Regions from separate parts of the Homo sapiens genome. Here regions 2 and 3 are each reported to be linked to region 1. Evidence: microRNA targets listed by miRTarBase, many of them from high-throughput screens and not tested one by one. Region 1 holds a microRNA gene; each other region holds the end of a gene's coding sequence.
What was found. Region 1 holds the annotated microRNA hsa-miR-2467-3p (AGCAGAGGCAGAGAGGCUCAGG, at 2,371-2,392, shown strand). A microRNA usually pairs through its seed, bases 2 to 8, with sites in the 3' UTR of a target mRNA and lowers its output. Matches are read on the target gene's strand: a 7mer-m8 pairs with bases 2 to 8, a 7mer-A1 pairs with bases 2 to 7 and ends in A, and an 8mer does both.

Region 2: miRTarBase lists DDX19A as a target of hsa-miR-2467-3p. Seed matches in the 3' UTR shown: 7mer-m8 at 2,094-2,100.
Region 3: the mRNA of C10orf71 is a reported target of hsa-miR-2467-3p. The part of its 3' UTR that is shown has no 7-base or 8-base seed match.

What each region holds. Positions count from the first base shown.
Region 1 is chr2:239,346,627-239,354,123 of GRCh38, reverse strand. MIR2467 (microRNA 2467) reads left to right here and starts at 2,320; the gene lies at 2,320-2,400. It overlaps HDAC4 (histone deacetylase 4), which reads left to right. Exons shown (of 27, transcript NM_001378414.1): 2 at 1,206-1,446. The coding sequence starts at 1,425. RefSeq lists a silencer at 1,464-1,657.
Region 2 is chr16:70,370,636-70,378,132 of GRCh38, forward strand. DDX19A (DEAD-box helicase 19A) reads left to right here. Exons shown (of 12, transcript NM_018332.5): 11 at 737-928; 12 at 1,290-2,748. The coding sequence ends at 1,351. It overlaps ST3GAL2 (ST3 beta-galactoside alpha-2,3-sialyltransferase 2), which reads right to left. Exons shown (of 7, transcript NM_006927.4): 7 at 5,342-7,497. Among named protein-coding and RNA genes, the nearest start is that of DDX19A, 27 kb to the left of the region's middle.
Region 3 is chr10:49,325,813-49,333,309 of GRCh38, forward strand. It overlaps C10orf71 (chromosome 10 open reading frame 71), which reads left to right. Exons shown (of 3, transcript NM_001135196.2): 3 at 1-1,680. The coding sequence ends at 1,041. Among named protein-coding and RNA genes, the nearest start is that of C10orf71, 30 kb to the left of the region's middle.

The sequences.
Region 1 (7,497 bases):
AACAACGGCAAGGAAGCATGTCAGAATGTTACCAAGGGCTTGTCTGTGTGTGATGGCATCATGGATGACTTTTTAAATACTTAACCTGTGATGCGCATGTATTGCTTTTATAAGCAGAAAATGAAAACCTGAGAAAATGGTCATTATGAAGACAGAAACATGAGGGAACTATTTTAGGTTATCATGTTACGTGAGGAATGCGGACTTTAGAATTAAATTCTGTGATTACACAGACATTGTGACTACGAATGTCTATGGATCCAGGCTGATGCAAGCGTGCAGTAATGACATTTTGTGGTGGGAATGTGCTGAAAGTGATTTTTCTTTTAAAACATTTTATTTCATATTTATTTCATAAGCTAATATGACAGAATAAATTTATATTAGTTGGAAGATACTCTGCTTCCTTTCAAAAGCCTAATGTTGGAGAAACTTCTGGAAGGGGTAAGGAAGGTGTCTCTAGATCAGATATTTTGAACCAGGGGATGATATTATCCCCCAGAGGACCTTTGGCACTCCCTGGAGACATTCTTGGTTGTCATGACCTGGAAGATGCTGCTGGCATCTGGTGTGTGGAGGCCCAGGATCCTGCTAAATATCTTATAATGTGTATGGCAGCCCTACACCCCAACACCTAAATACGCAAACCAAAATCCCAGTGGTACTGAGGCTGAGAAACCCTGCTCTCTGGAGACATTTTTACATGTCTGTGATTTACTAACAAAAATCCCACTGCTCGTATTTGTAGAAATGATTCCGTCGAACTGTTCTATCAGTCCTTGGTCAGAACAAGGATAAAGAAGGAAGTTGGTGGGGCGTGGTGGCTCAAGCCTGTAATCCCAGCACTTTGGGAGGCTGAGGTGGGTGGATCACTTGAGGTCAGGAGTTTGAGACCAGCCTGGGCCAACATGGCAAAACCCCGTTTCTACTAAAAATACAAAAATTAGCTGTGCCTGGTGGCATGCACCTGTGTTCCCAGCTACTCGGGAGGCTGAGGCAGGAGAATTGCTCGAACCCAGGGTTGCAGGGGTGGTGGAGGTTGCAGTGAGCCCAGATCGTGCCACCACACTCCAGCCTGGGCGATAGAGCAAGATTCTGTCTCCAAAAAAAAAGAGGAAGTCATCATTTCCCTAGTTGGATGTTGTTTTCCAGATCGGAACTTCCATGTTGTAACTCCAGTCTCTTTTCTCCTTCTGACCTTGCAGGTTCATCTGCAGAAGCCAGCGGACGCCTCTGTTCAACTTGTGGGTTACCTGGCTCATGAGACCTTGCCGGCGAGGCTCGGCGCTTGAACGTCTGTGACCCAGCCCTCACCGTCCCGGTACTTGTATGTGTTGGTGGGAGTTTGGAGCTCGTTGGAGCTATCGTTTCCGTGGAAATTTTGAGCCATTTCGAATCACTTAAAGGAGTGGACATTGCTAGCAATGAGCTCCCAAAGCCATCCAGGTAAGGCCGGGTCATTTCTTCTCTGGGCACACAGCGGGGCTTTCTTTGCCCAAAGTAGAAGTTCTTGTGACTGCAGCTTGCTTTCTGGATTTGAGACTTTTGTTTTTCTTGATAGTGGTCACTGTTGGTTTTTGACAGCACAAAGTGCAAAATGGATGGTTTATTCTTCCTCTTGGTGAAAGAAGAATGATAAAACCTGGGAGGATGTGGAGTCAAGTCTGCGACCCCGGTTTGCAGGCTGACTTGAGAGGCACACAGGTTTCCTCGATGCTTTTTGACAAGGGTGATGTTGAAAGGTCAGGTTGTGATGTGGAGAGCTGGTTTCTTGCCCAGTGTCTTTGTTGTTTCATGAGGGGTTGTGTGAGGGGTGGGAGTGCTCCTCCAACTGGGCGTCTGGGCTGTCTGGGAAGAAGCTCATGTTCCCACTGAGGTCGTGGCCACAGTTGCTCCTGGTGTTTGAGGGCCTCTGTGAGGGGCTGCACTAAGCATTTTACAAGCATTTAGTACAGCCCCAGATCATCTCAGGCCTGGAGGGAAGAAGTAATTTGCCTGAGGTCACAGAGCTGGTAGGTGGGGGACCCACATGATTGGGAAGCAAGCTTGTCCTGCTCTGAGCTTCAGAAGCATGTCATGGGCCCATCCATTTACGACTTCACACTTTCTGTCCTTGGAAAGTCACCGAGAGCGTGCACCATAATGAAACCTCGAGGCCTGCCGCCGACCTGCCTGAGTGTGGGGCTCCTGCAGAGCCAGTCCTGTGCTGCCCAGCTTCCTGCCACTTCCAGCGCACCGTGGCCTTCAAGGGCACTTAGCCATCGACTTCTGTCTTGCGTCCACATGAGAGAGAAGACGGTGGCCACTGGACAGACGCTTGGACAGGCACCTGAGGCTCTGTTAGCCTTGGCTCTGGGTCCTGCTCCTTAGAGCAGAGGCAGAGAGGCTCAGGGTCTGTCTGGGTCACTCTCTTTGAGATTGCCGGAACGCTTACACACATCTTTCCCTGGGTGGAATCGTCTTTGTCTGAAAATTCCAGAGGGCAAGATTCCAGGTTTTTTTAGATATGAAAGTTTTATTGAGTTAAATTGTTTATGTATTGACTGATGTAAAGAAATGGTTTATGATCATTCCAAGACAAAATTAAGCGCTATGGCTCAAAGTGTCTAAATAGACATTGAATGGAGCTGGCTCTCTCCCTCCTACACTGGGCTGCTGTTGGGTGAGAGTGTATCTTTTTTCTGTGTCTAAACATAGTGTGATGTGTGTGAGCATTTTCATAGAGTATAATTCTATAGGCAGGGCCCTGTGTTTTACATTCTGTCCATTTTAATGTGTTATAAGCATCTTTTGGTATCAGTATGTGTGCAAATATAACTTGCTCTTTTGATACCTTGCGAATGGATATTTATGTGGTTGTAGCAGTGTTTATACCAATTCCAAATTGGCATCAAACAATTATTATACATATATTTTGTAAACTTCTAAGTATCACTACTAGACAAATTCCAGGAAGTGGAAGCTGGGTCAGTGAGCCCGTGCACTTAAAACATCATTAGGTTGACTGTCAAATTGCTCCAGAAGCCTCGTTCCAACTGATCTTCCTAATTCCAGTGTAAGAGGATGCATATTTTTCATTTGTGCTGTACCAGCACTGGGTAGGTTCAGTCTCTCTCATTTTTGTCAGTGTGCTATGGGAAAATTATTGTTTGAGTACACTTGATTATTTTAATGGGGGTGCATATTTTTGTATGACTTGGTGTACACATAATCATAATTTGTACATGCTCTGCAGGCATTTGAAGAGAAAGTATGCTCTTAGGATTTTGTTTCAGTCTAAAGACGTCTGTATGTATGTATCAATATTGTATTTAAAGTTCTCGGCCGGGCGCAGAGGCCCACAGCTGTAATCCCAGCACTTCGGAAGGTCAGGGTGGGCAGATCACAAGGTCAAGAGATTGAGACCATTCTGACCAACATAGTGAAACCCCATCTCTACTAAAAATACAAAAATTAGCTGGGCGTGGTGGCGTGTGCCTGTAGTCCCAGCTACCCAGGAGGCTCAGGCAGGATAATCGCTTGAACCTGGGAGGCAGAGGTTGCAGTGAGCTGAGATTGCGCCACTGTACTTCAGCCTGGCGACAGAGCAAGACTCCGTCTCAAAAAAAAAAGTTCTCTCATTTATATATATTTTATTTATATATAGGAGGATATGTATCCTTTCTTTATATGTTGTTTTAATTATATATTAACTCAGTTGAGTTATTTAAATCAGTATAGCTTTACTTATTTTTTTCTGTCTGCTCGATTTCTTGGAAAAGTGTATTTTTCTACTGTGATTATAGTCTTATAATATTCTTTTTACATTAATAACCATTTTTTGCTTTATATAGTTCAGTGTTTTTTTTTAAAGCTTAAAAATTAATGACTGTTCTTTTGGTAGATCAGGTCTCTTATCAAAATATAATATATTTCTCTTTGTTTAATGTTTCTTTGACCGAGAGCTTATAGTGTTTCATGAGGTATTTCTACCCTTGGTTTCTTTTGGCTAACAAATATTTCTCCATCCGCTTGTCTCTAACCTTTTCAGGCCGGGTTCTTTGAGGCTCAGCTCTGGAAACCGCGGGGTGCTGGGTTTGTTTGGCCTTTTCTGTGGGAATTTCAGCCGCTGCGGTTCAGTTTGATCACCGGCCTGCCCGGGCCTGTCCTGCCCATGTGAGTTGGGTTGTGTGCGCCTTATTGCCACCCACGACCTCTCCATTCTCTCTCTCAGTGGGTTGGAGGCTGAAGACAGGCCGCACTGGTGAGGGCAGGGCTGCCCCTTGGCCCAGCCCATTCTCTGCTCTCCATCTGTGCAGGGGGTACAGCTGAGGTGGTTTGCCTGGGGCCTGAAGTCTGCTGGCTGCCTCCTCTGCCCTGTCCGCTGTCATCTTTCCCTGCCGTGTCTGCCCTTCCGCCCGGAGGTCCCTTGGGAGGCAGGACCCCTTGTGCCCAACACGTGCATACCACCACCTGCACACACTGGCTGGTGGCCCAGCGGCCTCTGCCCACGTCTCAGGCGGGGGATGGGGCTTGCCCAGAACCGTGCCCTCCCTCCTGGGCGAGGCCCACTCGCTTGTGTGCCTTCCCAAGCAGCTCCATCCCCAGAGATCTCTAGTTTCGGGAAGTTCCTCTGTGTTTCTTGTCAGCTGATGCACCTGTCCGTCCGCTCCCAGGCATTGCTGGAAGTGCTTTCCAATCCTGCTTTTCATCATTTTAGTGGGTTTTGGGAGGAAGAGAAATCATTAATACTAAAGGATTCAGTTTGCTCTCTTGAGCGGGAAATTTCTAGGTGTGTCAGAGCACAGCCACGGAACCGCTGTCCCTTTTCCTTGAGCCGAGGAGCCGAGTCCTGGCAACGTGGTGTTCGGGGCCTACCTGGCTGCACCTCCCCTCCCTCCGTGTGTCTCTCGTGCCGTCCTCTGCTAGCTGGCCCTGTCCTTCGCCCTGCCCACCCGGCTCACTCTTGCCTGCCTGGCTCACCCTTGCCTGCCCATCTGGCATGGGGGCCCTGCTCCTGTGTGGCCTGGTGTGGGTGCCCGTGCCGCCCTCACTCCCTGGGCAGGCCGGGCTGGGGGAGTCCAGCCGCCCATGGGCCCCCTCTCACATTTGTCATGTGACTTGGCTTTGCCCTGCTGATGAAGTGCCCTTCTAGTGCAGTGTGTGTGGCTTTCCTCTCCTGTGTTCTGTGAAAGTCCTCTGCTGCTGGGTGAGTTTTGTGTTACGGTTTTATTGCTGTTCCCGCTGAACTTTGCCAGAGCCAGGCCCTGGTTCTCTGACGTCAAAGCTGCTTAACTGTTGGGATTTTATTGCTCTAAAGAACGATTTCTAATGATGTGAGCGGCCTGAGGGAAGAACCTGGATTGACTTAGCCTGGAAGGGCTCTCCTTTGAAAGGAGGCCCTGGAGCCTTACGCCCCTTGCCCGGCCAGCCCTCCACACCCTCCCTGAGGGGATGCGCTGTGGCAGGGCAGGATGCGTTTGTCAGGACACAGAGCCTCTGCCTTGAAGCCAGAGTCCCTGGCATGAAACCGGGAGTGTGGACGGAAAGCCCACGGGGGCCTGCTGGCAGGACAAGCTACGCCTCCTTTTTTTTCTCCCATTCCCTTGTTTTCCTCCAAGGACAGTTCTCCAAGTAACTGTCCTTGTCTTTCCTTGTGGTTAAGGGCTTAGGATACTGGTGACTTGACTGGCCAGCAGGAAAGGCAGACGTTGTTACTTGGCCACCCACTTAACACTACCCCGTCCCTCCAGTGTCATTTACTTTCCCTTCCGGAATGTTCGTGCCTAGAGAAAGTCTTGCCCAGAAAAGTTCTCAGTGTCAAGGAGCCCCGCAGTGGATTTGCTGGGACGTGGATTTGCTGGGACGTGTCTGTGGTCAGCGGGATGGTGCTCTCGATAGGAAGCAGTGCATTTGCTGGGACGTGGATTTGCTGGGACGTGTCTGTGGTCAGCGGGATGGTGCTCTCGATAGGAAGCAGTGCATTTGCTGGGACGTGGATTTGCTGGGACGTGTCTGTGGTCACCGGGATGATGCTCTCGATAGGAAGCAGTGGATTTGCTGGGACGTGTCTGTGGTCACCGGGATGATGCTCTCGATAGGAAGCAGTGGATTTGCTGGGACGTGTCTGTGGTCACCGGGATGATGCTCTCGATAGGAAGCAGTGCATTTGCTGGGACGTGGATTTGCTGGGACGTGTCTATGGTCACCGGGATGATGCTCTCGATAGGAAGCTGGTTGAGCAGGCAGTGGTCGGTAACTTGAGCATCCTCTCGCTCCTGGAATCTTGGTGCGAGGTACGGATAATGTTTAGTTCAAAACAAAATAAGTGGCCGGGTGCGGTGGCTCAAACCTGTAATCCTCGTGCTTTGAGAGGCCGAGGTGGGCAGATCATTTGAGGTCAGGAGTTCGCGATCAGCCTGGTCAGCATGGTCAAACCCCGTCTCTACTAAAAACACAAAAATTAGCCAGGCGTGGTGGCACGCGCCTGTAGTCCCAGCTACTCGGGAGGCTGAGGCAGGAGAATCGCTTGAATCCGGGAGGTGAGGTTGCAGTGAGCCGAGATGGTGCCACTGCACTGTAGCCTGGCCGACAGAGCAAGACTGTTGTCTCAAAACAAAAAAAAAGGATTTTGTGGGAAACGTGTGTAACTTAAGATCAGTGTGTTCATTTGGGCCATTCTATGATTTCTTAATATTCTGTTCAGTCTGAGCTACCCCCATCCACATAAAAGCAGCTAAAAAGTCTCTGTCCACAATGACTTGGTGATGAGTGAGTTCATGGTAATACAGTTGCTTCAGACCACTGTTGAGTGTTAACCCTGTGAGTCCAGGGAGAAGGCTCTCCTCTGGGATTGCTTCCAGTCCTCATGTTCTGCTCTAACTTTATTTGATCTTGAATCTGTTTATTTTAACTATTGTGGCCGCCAAGATTATTATATTTTAATATAGAAATGATCCATAAAGATGCATTTTTATGGCATTTAAATAATGCTCTGCAGTGGTTGAATGTCTCAGGAATACCACAAAGTGTCTGTGTGTATGTGTGTGTTAGAGTGTGTGTTAGGGTGTGTGTTTTAGACAGGTTGTATGTGTGTGAATCAGGGTGTATGTGTGTTAGGGTGTGTGCGTGTGATGGGGTGTGTGTTTTAGACAGGGTGTGTGTGTTAGGGTGCGTGTGTGTGTTTTAGACACAATGTGTATGTGTTAGGGTGTGTGTGTGTTTTAGACAGGGTGTGTGTGTGAGAGACAGGGTGTGTGTGTTAGGGTGTGTGTGTTTTAGATAGGGTGTGTGTGAGACAGGGTGTGTGTGTTAGGTGGTGTGTGTGTGTTTTAGACAGGGTGTGTGTGTGTGAGACGGTGTATGTGTTAGGGTGTGTGTTTAGACAGGGTGTGTGTGTCAGGGTGTGTTTTAGAGCGTGTGTGTTAGGGTATGTGTGTGTTAGGGTGTGTGTTTTAGACAGTGTGTGTGTTTTAGACTGTATTAAGATATGGGTGTGTGTTTTAGACAGAGTGTGTG
Region 2 (7,497 bases), not on the chromosome of region 1:
CAGTGAGCCGAGAATGTGCTATAGCACTCCATCCTGGGTGACAGAGTGAGACTCTGTCTCCAAAAAAAAAAAGGAAGAGGGCAGGCCCAGTGGCTCACGCCTGTAATCCCAGCACTTTGGGAGGCCGAGGTGGGCGAATCACCTGAGGTCAGGAATTCGAGACCAGCCTGACCAATATGGTGAAACCCCATCTCTACTAAAAATACAAAAATTAGCCGGGCGTGGTGGCATGCGCCTGTAATCCCAGCTACTCAGGAGGCTGAGACAGGAGAATCGCTTGAACCCGGGAGGTGGAGGTTACGGTGAGTGAGATCGCGCCATTGCACTCCAGCCTGGGCAACAAGAGCGAAACTCCGTCTCAAAAATAAAAAAAGAAAGAAAGAAAAGGAACTCCCGCAGAAACCAGTAGTCCTGACTTGGTGGAAGGAAATGTACAGGCATCTGACTGGTAGAGAACGGAGCCTACTCTTCCAGGGGCGCCCATCTCCAGAACATTGTGTCTCCCAGAGGATTACCGACTGATCTCATGATTTTGTTGGCACTTGCCAAAGTTCTCTTCTTTTCCTCTGGGTTCTGTTGCCTGCCTATATGTGTGCCCTCTCTTGTACCCAGAGTTGGCCTGTCCCAAATTCTTTCCCTCTATCCCAAAGTTGGTACGCATTGACCTACCTATGGATGACAGTGATTTCTGTCTCCTGTCCTTAGTCCTCTCAGCCTCCAACTCTCCTTCCTGCAGGCATTGATGTTGAACAAGTGTCTGTCGTCATCAACTTTGATCTTCCCGTGGACAAGGACGGGAATCCTGACAATGAGACCTACCTGCACCGGATCGGGCGCACGGGCCGCTTTGGCAAGAGGGGCCTGGCAGTGAACATGGTGGACAGCAAGCACAGCATGAACATCCTGAACAGAATCCAGGAGCATTTTAGTGAGTCCCGGGGAGGGTCCTGTGCCTGGCGCCCTTTGCTAAGTAGGGCGGGGTGGTGAAAGGGGTAGGATCTTCTGTAGCCCCAAGAGAGGCTCTGTCCCTAGCACACTCCCCTCCTTTCTGACCATATGGCAGTTCTCAGGGAGCACACCTGGAGACTTCAGGACCCAGGGACTCCAAGGACAGCTCCCCTGTGACTGGGCTTCGGGGCGTGGGGCTCTGACTGTTGCTGTCAGTGACTAGGGGCCCTGCTGCCCCCTGCTTAGGCACCCGGAGCCTTTGGGCCTGAATGAATGATTGCTGTGGCCTGAGGTGGGGCACATTCCTGGGCAGGGTAGAGACTTGTGTATCTTTCCCCCAGATAAGAAGATAGAAAGATTGGACACAGATGATTTGGACGAGATTGAGAAAATAGCCAACTGAGAAGCTCCACCAGCCACTGATGCCAGCCCTGGCACTGCCCCTGCACAGGAGACAAGTGCATTTAGGGCACAGGCCCCGACATCACCCCAAGGACAACGGCAGAAGTAGAGAGAAACTACCTACCTCACTTCAAATTATGTTTGGACTTGACAAAAATAGGTGCAAATGATGGGGGGCAATAGAAGAAAAAATTTGCATTTTGGAAAATTGGGTCCTTTCCCCACTTTTTTAAAGCCACATTCCCCCATCTTTATAATAATCTGGTCACAGTGGTAGTCGCTGGCCCCAGGACCCCCTCCTGATTTTGGCTAGGCATCGTGGAACCAGCTCCAGCCCCTGAAGAAACGATAGATGTGCAGGTTGTGCGGAAGAGGCTGAGTGGAAAATGGTGTGAGCCCCACCGCTGTGCATCGAATGAGGGAAGTGGCAGCAGAGAGGCCAGAGCTGCCCCCTCTCTGTCTCTTCAATGGACCCTTCACAAGTGTTTCTCCTGCCCTTGGGGCTGTCTTCCTTCTCCTGAAATCCAGAGACTTTCTTGCTCATCCCTTCTCCCTTTCACTTCTGTTCTCTGCTGCAGAAAGCAGACTTGCATATCCCTGATGAGCAGCTCGGCTACTTTTGTAAACTTCAGATTTGGAGAGAAACACGAAAGTCTGAATCCTGACCCCTTGAGAGAGAGTGATCTGGCGAGGGCCGATGAAGGGGCTGGGCCTGGTCTTGCCTTCTCTTCTCTCGGTTGCTCCCTCTGCCTAGGCCCCTGGTACTCAGTCACGGCAGCCAGGAGACCCCAGGTGAGTTTCTGAGCGCATACGTAGTTGGTTCTTACCCCCAGGTGTCACACGGGGCCGAGAGCTGAGCAAGAATTTGGAATGGAAGTTATGACCAAGGGAATTATGCTGTTCATTTATAATAGTGGACATTATGGAGAGCTCTGATTCCTACATAATATGAATAAGGATGGATAGGCCGGGCGTGGTGGCTCATGCCTATAATCCCAGCACGTTGGGAGGCTGAGGCGGGCGGATCGGTTGAGCTCAGGCGTTCGGGACCAGCCTGGCCAACATGATGAAACCCCGTCTCTACCAAAAATAGAAAAAAATATAGCCGGGCCTGGTGGCGCACGCCTGTAGTCCCAGCTACTCGGGAGGCTGAGGTAGGAGGATCGCTTGAGCCTGGGTAGAGGCTGCTGTGAGCTGAAATGGCGCCACTGCACTCCAGCCTGGGTAACAGAGCGAGACCCCGACTCAATAAATAAATAAGGATGGATAAATTGTAGCGTATGCACCATTCATTATGCTAAGACATTTTAAAGTAATTATGAGAAACGCTCTACTAATGATTTGTTTTTATTTGTATTTTTCTGCTTATTAGACAAATATATACTCATTTTAAAAAGGCGTGTGTGTATATAAAGTGAGAGTGCTCTCTATCCCTTCTCTTCTGGGATCCTGATTCCTGGCAGCTTGGTGAATATTCTACCATATTGCCTTTTATTTGCATAAACCCATTTTTCTTTTACAAAAACAGGAACATTCTGTTCACACTACTATGCAACCTGCTTTCACTGATCAGCATGTGTTAGACATGTTGACATGTCCAATACACACACATCTTCCTTGCCCTGGAAACACCATCCACCTTCCTTTCTGCGTGTAGCTGTCCCGGCATTTATCTCCTGGTTCCTCTAGTGACAGGCATGGGGGATTTCTAGTACATGGCTGTTATCCACAGTACCACAATGAACATTTTTTTTTTCTTTTTTTGAGACAGAGTGTCACTCTGGCCCGGAGTACAGAGGCGTGATCTCGGCCCACTGCAACCTCTGCCTCCCAGCTTCAAGCAGTTCTCTTGCCTCAGCCTCCCAAGTAGCTGGGATTACAGGCACATGCCAGCATGCCCAGCTAATCTTTATATTTTCTGTAGAGATGGGGTTTTGCCATGTTGGCCAGGCTGGTCTCGAACTGACCTCAAGTGGTCTGCCTACCTCTGTCGGCCTCCCAAAGTGCTAGGATTATAGGTGGGTGCCATCACGCCTGGCCGAACATTTTTTTTTTTTTTTTTTTGAGACGGAGTCTCACTCTGTCGCCCAGGCTGGAATTCCGTGGCGTGATCTCAGCTCACTGCAACCTCCACCTCCTGGGTTCAAGCGATTCTCCTGCCTCAGCCTCCTGAGTAGCTGGGATTACAGGCACATGCCACCGCACCCAGCTAATTTTCGTATTTTTAGTAGAGACGGGGTTTCACCATGTTGGTCAGACTAGTCTCAAACTCCTGACCTCGTGATCCGCCCACCTCGGTCTCCAAAAGTGCTGGGATTACAGGCGTGAGCTACTGTGCCTGGCCTGAACATCTTTTTAAAAAAGATTTATTGCTTATTTATTTTTGTAGCGATGGGGTCTCACTAAGTTGCCCAGTCCAGTCTCAAACTCCTGGGCTAAATTGATCCTCCTACCTCAACCTCCTAAGTAGTTGGGATTACAGGCATGAGCCCTTGACCCAAACTGAACATCTTTGTTCTCTTTTTTTTTTTTTTGAGACCAGCTCTCACTTTGTCACCCAGGCTGGAATACAGTGGCATGATGATCTCGGTTCACTGCAGCCTCGACCCAGTCTCAAGTGACCCTCCTGCCTCACCCCTCCAAGTAGATGGGACTACAGGCCTGCACCACCACACCCGGCTAATTTTTGTATTTTTTTTTGTAGAGATGGGGTCTCACCATGTTACCGAGGCTGGTTTTGAACTCCTGAGCTTAAGTAATCTGCCCGCCTGGGCCTCCCAAAGTGCTGGGATTACAGGCATGAGCCATCATGCCCAACCTTATTCTTATTTTTGAGCGTTGGTGAAAATCACTTCAGGATATTATTCCTGGAAGTAGAATTGTTGGGTCAAAGAGTAGGGACATTTAAAATTTTAATTCATTGTCATTTACACTTGCCAAAGGTTTTTACCAATTTATGTTACTGTGATACAAAAATTACGTGCTTGCCAACAGTATTATCAATGTTTAAAACTTTGCCAGTCTAAGTGGCAAAAACAGATTATGTCATTGTTTGATTTTGATTTAGTGAGGCTTGGCAAACATTAAGTTTCTTAGAAAATCTTTTCTGTTGGGGAGCTGCCCATTCTTGTCTCACTACATTATTATTATTATTATTGAGATGGAATTTTGCTCTTGTTGCCCGGGCTGGAGTGCAATGGTACGGTTTTGGCTTACTGCAACCTCTGCCTCTCCAGCTCAAGCGATTCTCCTGCGTCAGCCTCCCAAGTGGGATTACAGGCATTTGCCACCACACTGGGCTAATTTTGTATTTTAGTAGAGATGGGGTTTCTCTATGTTGGTCAGTCTGGTCTTGAACTCCCAACCTCAAGCGAACCGCCCACCTTGGCCTCCCAAAGTGCTGGGATTACAGGCATGAGCCACTGTGCTGAGCCCTGGCCTGTATCCTACTCTTTGAAAGGAAGTCATTATGTACATGCAGCCCACACCTCAAGGAAGTTACATGCTCTCCTTAAGGGCAGAGTAGCTACCTACATTAATTATTCAACTCCTCTGCAAGGGAGAATTCTCTCTTCTCCCCCACTGATTAATTTATTCAATCATGTACAGAGTTTTTATTAGTATTAGACTGGTGATGTACCTTGATCATTTGGTTAAGGTGACTGATAAAAAAATTTTTTTTTGTTTTTTGTTTTGAGATGGAGTCTCGCTCTGTTGCCCCGGCTGGACTCCAGTGGCTTGATCTCGACTCACTGCAACCTCTGCCTCCTGAGTTCAAGTGATTCTCCTGCCTCAGCCTCTTGAGTAGCTGGGACTACAGGCACCTGCCACCACACCCAGCTGATTTTTTGTATTTTTAGTGGAGACAGGGTTTCACCATGTTGACCAGGCTGGTCTCAAACTCCTGACCTCATGACCCACCCACCTTGGCCTCCCAAAGTGCTGGGGTTACAGGTGTGAGCCACCTTGCCCGGCCTAAGTGTACTCAAGCCTTAGTTAAGGTTTATTTATTTCTATTTATAGCAAAGACAGCTGAGATGTCAAACTCTTCCCTTTCATGGTCTCCAGTGCGGTGCCCGTGGTAACAGCGTTTCACAGGAAGCACCGTGGAGACGCAGCCCAGGGGACTGCCATGGCCCTGCGAAGGGGCAGCGTCTCTTCCCTCTGTGGTCCCCTTTACCCATTCCATGACAAATGGTAGGCAAAAAAAGATATCGCAGGAAGGCCCTCCGTGATTCACTTCATATGTTTATGTATTGGTTGAATTATTTTTGTAATTTTAAAAAAGGAAAGGCAAAGTCATTTTATAGCAAGGCCGGATGGAACTGGGCGCCCTGAGTGCAGATGCCATATGTTTCTTCTGCTTCACAGGCTTCCCTCTGGAGAGAACCAGGCTGCCAGAGAGTCTGTGCTGTTCTCAGCAGCACAAACAGTTGCTAGAGGAAAGGTGTTAATTCCACACTCTGAGGACCAGGCTGGCCCAGATACATACTGCTCCTCAAGCCTCACAGAGGCGGGAGAGGGGGACCTCCTCTTGGATTTTGTGGGTTGGTTGTTACCCAGGCATAGACTTGCTGCAGGAGCTGTGATTTTTTTCACAAAAGTAGTGAGAAGGGGCATTGATTCCTAATTCACACTCAAAAGGGAATACTTTTATTTTTAAAAATATAGTTTCAGTATTTTACCTTCCCTGATGCCTCTGACCTTGCCAGACAGTCACAGAAGGTACTTCCTTGTCTGCTGCCTGTGGATGGGTAAAATACTTTTTTTTTTTTGAGACGGAGTCTTACTCTGTCGCTCAGGCTGGAGTGCAGTGGCTCAATCTCGGCTCACCACAACTTCCACCTCCCAGGTTCAAGCAATTCTCTGCCTCGGTCTCCCGAGTAGCTGGGATCACAGCCGTCTGCCACTAAGCCTGGCCAATTTTTTGTATTTTTAGTAGAGACGGGGTTTCACCATCTTGGCCAGGCTGGTCTTGAACTCCTGACCTCGTGATTCACCTGCCTCAGCCTCCCAAAATGCTGGGATTATAGGCATGAGCCACCGTGCCTGGCCATAAAATGTTTTTAAAAAATTTTTTAGCTAGGCTCTAGCTGCTCTGGAGGCTGAGGTGGGAGGATCACTTGAATCCAGGAGTTTTTGAGGCTGCAGTGAGCTCTGCACCAGTCTGGGCGACAGGAGACCCTGTCTCTTAAAAAAAAAAAAAAAAAAAAAAAAAGGGTCTGGTGGCTCACGCCTGTAATCCTACCATTTGGGAGGCCAAGGCAGGCGGATCACCTGACGTCAGGAGTTCAAGACCAGCCTGACCAACATGGAGAAACCCCGTCTCTACTAAAAATACAAAATTAGCCGGGCGTGGTAGTGCATGCCTGTAATCCCAGCTACTCAGGAGGCTGAGACAGGAGAATGGTGTGAACCCGGGAGGCGGAGCTTGCAGTGAGCGGACATAGCACCACTGCATTCCAGCCTGGGCAATGGAGAGAGACTCCATCTGAAAAAAAAAAAAAAAAAAGAGAAAAGCCTCCATCGTGACAAAGGGGTTAAATAAGCAACCAGAGGCCGGGCACGGTGGCTCACACCTGTAATGCCAGCACCTTGGGAGGCCAAGGTGGGCAGATCACGAGGTCAGGAGTTCAAGACCAGCCTGGCCAACATGGTGAAACCCCGTCTCTACTAAAAATACAAAAATTAGCTGGGCATGGTGGTGCGCATCTGTAATCCCAGCTATTTGGGTGGCTGAGGCAGGAGAATCGCTTGAACCCAGGAGGCACAGGTTGCAGTGAGCCGAGATCATGCCACTGCACTCCAGCCTGGTCAACAGAGCAAAACTCCATCTCAAAAATAAAAAAATATAAGCAACCAGGAGTGAAACACACCTGTGGAGGCAGGGAACTCAGGAAATCAAGGAAGAAAAAGGTGTCTAGTAAGTACAAGATGAAACATCACTTACCTAACTTCCCTTCCCACAACGTCACTAAAGCTATGGGAAAGGAATGAAAAAGGTATCAACTCACATGGGCAAATAAATGGAAACAATAACAGCAATAGACGGGAAATTTAACAAAATATTTGGAACACACCCAAAAAACTGGATGAAAAAGCTCCCATTTTAGCAATAAAGGGAAGTAGAATGATATTTATAGGAGT
Region 3 (7,497 bases), not on the chromosome of region 1:
CCCGAGGAGCCTAATCAAGCCAGCCCCTGGGCCAGCTCCAGTCCTGCCAGGGTCACCCGGAGGGAGGACCTGACCCACGCCCTCGTGTGGGAGGGCGGCTCTGACCCCCTACTTGAGCTGTCGGCAGAAGACCTCCGGACCCTCTCTCCAAGAGGTTCATTGCTGGATGTGGCCACCAGCCCAGCAGGCACCTCTGGGAGACTTGAGCTTCCTGCACAGCTAGAGAGGACAGCAAGCAAGCCACCTGCAGTCCCACCCAAAACAGAGAAAGCCCTGCGGCGGGCAAAGAAGCTGGCAAGTAAGAGGAGGAAGACGGATCAGGCTCAGGAGAAGCATGGCGAGTCACAGGAGGGAAAGCCCTGCCCGGAGGACTTGGAGCAGACACAGCAAAGGCCGCTGTGCCCCAGAGAGAGGCCCCGACACAATTTCCCCGTGGTCCGTTCCCTGCCCCCTCCCGTGCACCGCCACTCCGTGTCCGGCTTCTCGGAGCCTGTCGGGAGGCGGCCCGGGGGCCCCCAGTCCCTCACACCCCTGCCCGCGTACCCCGCCACCCAGAAGGTCCTCCAGGATCCGCAGTCCGGGGAGTACTTTGTCTTCGACTTGCCACTCCAGGTGAAAATCAAGACCTTCTATGACCCAGAGACGGGCAAGTATGTCAAGGTCTCCATCCCGTCCTCCGAGGGGGCCTCCCCAGAGCCGCCCCCACCGGACGCCCTGGCCGCTCCCTATGTGCTGTACCCCGGCTTCCAGCCAGTGCCCGTGACGGCCTTGATGCCGCTGCGCTGCTCCTCTCAGCTCTCCGCGCCCACCTTCCTCAGGCAGGGCCCTCGTGCCTCCGCGGCCCGCGCCAGGACCCAGAGTGTCCACGAGTCTGGACTACAGCTGGACCCAGGGCCTCACGGTGACTGCACCCCGCACTCTGCAGGCCAGCGCCCTCATGGTCCTCCCCAGAGCCCAGGAGAGGAGGGTGTAGAAGCTCCAGGCCTGGGCATCATCTCCACTGATGACCTAGAGGACTTTGCCACAGAAGGCATTTCTTGAGTTACTGCAGGCTGTCCCCCACCCCCAGATGAACCCAGAGGAGCTTACTTCCCCCTCCCCCAAAACAAGCAACACACACACACACACACACACACACACACACACACACGATCATCAACACATACTTAGCCTTTTTAGATCCATAAAGTCCAGAAGGCAGTAGGGATCCCAAGACGACCTCACCCAAAGGGCTCCCTGGCTCTCCTCTGATGGAGGGGCACTGCTTGCTTGGCCCGGTCCCCTCCGTGCCAGTTCCCAGGCGCACTCTACTCCAGCCCTTCTCCCTCCCTCCCTTCCTCCCTCTCCTGGCCCACCCTGCTCTTCCCTCGCCCTGCAAATTAGGTGGGTGTGGCAAGGGCACCGCCTGGTCCCAAGTGTCCCTCTGTACCCACACCCACCCACTCACTTGTAAGCTCCTTGATGAGCAAACCCCTAAGGCCCCCAGCTCAGACTCAGCAGGCATTCAGGTCAACTCAGGCAGACTGGCTAAGGACCAGCCCAGGGCAATTTTGCAGAAATGATCATTTGCACAGAATGGGTTTCCTTCACAGGGAGAAACTTGCCTCTGAAAGCTATTTTCTGATCAAGAAAAGGCCCACTTTTTAAAAAGTGAAACAAGTTTGCAGATACGGTTCTCTTCCTGGACTCCTGTCTTCCTTCTGTGGGCAGTAGGGGTCAGGGCTGACAGAGCCACCTCCCTGTCTACCACAGTCTGAGTCTGGCGTCCCACCTTGTCCCTTCAACACCTGTCCATGCCTTCTCAGGGCCAGGCCCTCCAGTGGGTCCTGACTGCCCTGATTTAGTAACCAGTACCTGTGCCCTCCACTCAAAAAGAAAGTGTGTTCACACCCTCACCCCCCATCAGTTCCTGACCTTTGGGGATTTGGAGGGAAGTGTTGGGATTAACTGAAGAGTTTGAGAGTTTTACCTAATGAAACGGATCCACTGGCCCAGCACAGTAAAGCCAAAATCCACACTGAGGTTTGCAGTGGGAGAAAGGAGGGTGTTTATTTGCAGGGCACCAAGCAAGGGGAATCAGGCAGCTCACGCTTAAAACCCAACCTCCCCCGTGGCTTGCAAGCATGGATTTTTAATGGCAAGGGAAATGTTCAGGAAAGCCAAAGTTACAGGTGAAATTGTAAATCAACACATGGAGGGTACACATTGGTTCGGCCTAAAAAGGCAGGATATCTTGAACCAGGGACTTACGGGTCATAGGGTGGAGTCAAACATTTTCTGAATTGCAATTGGTTAAGGAAGAGAAGCTTTGTTTTAAAATTTGGGTTAGCAGAAAGGAATGTTAGCTCTGGCTTGTGGGTGGGACTTCCCCCAGGCCCCCCAGGAAGAAATATAGAACAAAGAGCCGTGCTCAGAGTTCAGTCCTCAGCTCCCTCTTCTCTGAGGTCTCTGTGCCAGTGGATCCGTTTGGTGGGGGTCTGGGTTTCTGAAAAACAACTCGGAGTCAGAAGTTGAGATGTTCTTTTTAATTTCCAGAGGGAACAAAACACCCCAGGACTCTGGCTTCCTTCGCTGTTGTTTTAGGTTATTATTACCTTCCTGCTTATCAAGTTGTTCATTGGCTTCTTAGGGCTAGCTAAGTGCCTGGAATTTCCCTTGAAGGAAACCAAGATTTTCCTGTATTTCCATGGTTGGGGAGGGGACCCTGCTCGATCTTCAGAACAGGTGCCCTCTTGCAGGCAGCCGGCTAGGAAGGAAACCAGCACCCAGGGTATTGATAGGTTTCCATGCCACGGCTTCTACAGAAGCCTCTTAATTCTTGTTCTACTGGAAACACAGGGGCAAAACGTGCCTCCCTCTTTGTTTAGAAACCTCAGCAGCTGCCAGGACTATGCTGCCCAGGGCCCAGGGGACCATGCAAGATGCATTGTCCTTGTCCTGTTGGCAAAGGCGCCATTTCCACACTGGGAGGATGGGGAGGCATTCAGTAAACCAAGTCCCAGACTCACACAAATACAGGGGCTTTGATTTGGATTCAAGATTTTATACCTTTTTGTTTTCCCAACAAGTGCAGCCACACCTGATTTTCATTGTGAAAATACCACACAACGCCCCCTCCTTTCCTCCCAACCAATGCCATTCAATTTGGCCACACCTGTTGCCAGCCACGCAACCAGCCAGGAGTGCAAGCAGATCACTATCCCAAAATCTGGTTCCCATGAGTCGCTCACTGGGTGCAAGCGACAAGAACAAAGCTGCATTTTGGCCTGCCTCCAAATCACCTCAAGCATCCTCTCCACTTTGTTTTCATCTCACTAAAACATGAGAAGGAATATCTCATTTTGCAATTCTCAGGGTCCAAGGAAAAGAATTGTCTAACGAAGGAAGAGTCCATCTGTTCAATAAGAACCACGGTTATAGTAACTATGTCCCCACAGGAGAAAATATTACTTTGGGGAACTTATTTTGGGGAAGCGATCTTCTTCCTTAGAACCAATATTGGCAAGGCTGTGGGTAGAACTAAACACATAAAGTCTTGCTCCCAGCAAGTCAGCTAGAAGGACGCCTCACTCCCTTACAGCACTGGGCCTGTCTTCCTGAAGCACAGAATGCCTCCAGGGAACACAAGCAGAGAGTCTCCATCCAGTGAAGCCCAACTCACTAGCCAGTGATGTTTTCCTCTTTCCATTTGCTCCTGAGGGAGGTCATGTATGCCTTCTTCCTTCCTCACGCCCTCCTTCTTTCTCCCTTCCTTGTTTCCCTCCCTCTCTCCTTCTCTCTCTTCCTTTCTTCTTTCCTCCCTCCCTTTTACAAACATTTGCACTGTGCCAGGCACTTTGATGGGCGCTGATGGTACCATGACAATAAGATCTGGTCTCTGCACTCAAGGAGTTAAAATCTAACAGAGAAGAAAGATAATTACAATCCCACATGTTACGTAATTTAATAGGTTGTTCTGAGGAACACCTAACTTGCTCTGGCTTCAGGGGTTGGCACCTGAGCCAAGTCAAGAAACACAAAGCTGTCCATTAATTTATGAAAAAATTCAGAATTTCCCCAGCTTTAATCTATCAAAGATGACATTGATTAAATACTAATAGATTTGTCTTGCTATATCAAAGCATATTAATTTAGCTAACTGTTCATCAGCATTTCTAATCAGCACAAAAGCTGAACCAGTGTAGCCTCACAGGATAGACCTTGGTTGATAGGTCTTTCAGCTTCTGAATTGATATTTCACTCACAGGGGTTGCCCAGCAAAACCACTATTTCTGCCATTGTGTTTAGTAGGACAGTGGTGAGATTTATGACAACATGTTGTTTGTGGAAATTACAGATGTTGTCTGCATCTTCTGTGTAGTACCCTGGCCCTTTTCTATGAGTATGACCCCTCTAAATGTCTCCTGGGGAGAGGACATGGAGGTGGAGCACCTCCAGGAAACAGTTGAAGGTCCCGGGTTGTTCAACTAAACATGACCAAGGGCTCACATTGTCAAACATGTACCATGCGCTGGCCCATGAGTGGGGAGCTTGAGCCTGGACTTGGTCCTCCCAGCAAGCCCTTGAGAGAGGCCCTCATTAGCCTCATTTTACTGTAAAGGAAACAAAGGTGCCAAGATGGGATGTAACTGCCCACGGTCACAGAGCCACTAAGTGAGGGGCCATGCCAGGGTCTTGGGCCCCTCTTACTTCTAGGTGGACTCTTTAATACTCAACCAGTACTTCGTAAGTGCGGTCCCTGCAGCAGCAGCCTCCACATCACCAGGGGCTTGTGAGAAGTCCAGAATCCCTATCTCCATCTTCACAAGCTTCCCTGGGTGGTTGATCCATTTGTGCATTGAATTCTAAGTGCTGTCAGTCTCTGCTTAGCCTGTATAAATTTTGGGGAGGTGCACTGGATGTCTTCATGTCTCCACAGCAATGTCTTGTGCAAAGGAAGAGAGCAGCACATCTAGGTGGGGGAGTTGCAGGGAGATGATTGACACTCAATGTGAGAAAGGCATCTCTGAGGACGAGCATCATCTTTTTTTTTTTTTTTATTTGAGACAGAGTCTCACTCTGTTGCCCAGGCTGGAGTGCAGTGGCTCGATCTCAGCTCACTGCTACCTCTGCCTCCCGGATTCAAGCAATTCTCCTGCCTCAGCTTCCTGAGTAGTTGAGATTACAAGTGCGCACTACCGCACCTGGCTAATTTTTGTATTTTTAGTAGTGACGAGGTTTTGCCATGTTGCCAGGCTGGTCTCGAACTCCTGACCTCAAGTGATCCACCCACATTGGCCACCCTAAGTGCTGGGATTACAGGCGTGAGCCACGACATCCAGCCACTAGGATCGTCTTGACATTACGTCAACTGCTAGGGATAACTGAGCTCCCTGCCACTGGAAATGTACAATGGAAGCTGATGACCCCTTTCCTAAGACAAGGATGGATTCAGGTATCAGAAGGGACCTAACTATCTTTTGGGACCCCAGGCTACTTTTGGGGCTCCAGTATGCCACCGGCAAGGATGCAAGGTCTCAACAAGGAGTGGCCATAGGCACATGATGGAAAACATTTGCATACAAAAGGGGAGCTCTGTGGCAAAACCTGAACTCTGTGCATGTAGGAAACATTTTGGCCTAGATACACCATGAAGTTGAACACACCTGTTTGTACAGGTCTTCCAAATCATTCAGATGTGAAGTCCAAAGTGAGTGGAGCAAACTCGGAGCCACATCCCTGAGCTTGTCACCACCAGAGTCTTGTTTAGGCTTCCTCAGTGTCACCTCACAGAGCCGCCTGAGCAGAGGGGTCTTCCCTTCCACCAGGTGGATGGGTGGGCTCCTCCCTTAGCTGCTGGCTTCTAGCAGAATGCTCCAGCCTGCCTGGGCCTCAGAATCATCTGTGCACTTGTTAACACTTGTTATTCATCCCAGCCCTATTTCCAATTCACCTCATCAGATTCTCCAAGTGTGGGAAAGAGTCAATGCAGAGGTGCAAATTCCCGGGAGTTTCTGGTTAAACCAGTCTCACAAATGCCACTCCAGAGCACAGTTCCACATCTGGGCCCCACATACTGGCCAGGAGCTGCCAGGCCCAGAGTTCTGCTCAGGGGAAACACCCTCCTGTGGAAGGTTATGTGGAGGTAGGACCTGGGGCAAGAAGAACTCAGAGGCACTACTTTCTTCATGTGGAAGCGGTGAATGGGGAAAGGTATGACAGCCCTTGAGGGCCACCCAGTGCAGCCTCCAGCCCTGCGCAGAGCCACCTGGCCTGCTTCCTGCTGCCACACCTTCCTCTCCTCCTCCAGGTGTGCCCCAAAGCTCTATCAGGAGGCTACTCTTCCACAGAAGGGAGGAGGGGCATTGTTAGAAATAAAGACTTCCCTTTGAAGGAAAGTTCAAACTTTCCCTCTGAAGGTTCCATAATTGAATCTGCTGAGATAAACTGACAATAGACAGATTAACCAGAGAAAAGGCCTACAAATTTATTAACATGCAAGCCCAGGGGAGTTGCACGAAGTGTGCAACTCTAAGAAGAACCAGATGGTTGAAACTTAAATATCCTCTTTGTAGAGGAGAGGGAGTTGGGGGTTGCAATTCTGAGGAAGAGTAAATGATTTTTTAGGGAAGATAAATGGGTCCAAAGAACAGACAATGGCCTAGAGCAAAGTTCCCCTGGGTCCCGGGTGTGGTATCCACTCCAGTCGTCTTTCCAAGCCTTCTTTCCTGTAAGTTCATCTCTGTTTGACAAGCTAGGGAAGGGAGTCCAAGACAACTGCATTCCTTCTGGAGGAACTTCCCTTAGTCAAGAAAGCCCCTCCTTGCCCTTCGGGAGAGGCAAAGAGGTGTGGGACAGGGTCTAGAGAAGGTCAGAGGGACCTTGGTTCTGGGGCTGCTTCTTCAGTTCAAAGTATTCAGCATGTCAACGCACCACACTTTAGGGTAACACTTTAAACTGGGTGAAGCCTGGGGCTCTGACCTACGCAAGTAGATGTCCGAGGATGAAGGTGCTCCACTAACCACTATCCCCAAACAGGGAGTTAACCTTCTTGTGCTCATCATTTGCCAAACTGTGGTTTAGTTTTTAAGTCTTTGCACTGTCTCAGAATTTTTCTCGAGCCTCAGCTTGCTCTGGGCACTGTCACATGGATGCCATTTCCCTGGGTCCTTGTCTGGCATCAGTCCTGCTCCTGGGTCCCAGCCCCAACTCCCACCGCTTGTGGCCATCCTTCCTGAGCTTCAGAGCCCTCCCTTAGGCCCCTTCATGAGAACATTGTCAGCACCTGCCTTCCTGTCATTCGTGATCATTCTTCTATTTTCCTCTGAATTTGGAAACCTTTGGCTCGTGTGGTCCTCTTTCCCATTTACAAAGGCCATATACGTCACCAGTCTCCTTTGGCATTCCCGTGCTTTTACCAGCCCATTCCTCCTCACTGATGTAGCCTGAAAAAGTCAGCAGGCCAAGTCAATAGTTAATCGAACAGTTGGCTTCTAGCAGAGACTGCCAGCCAGTGCT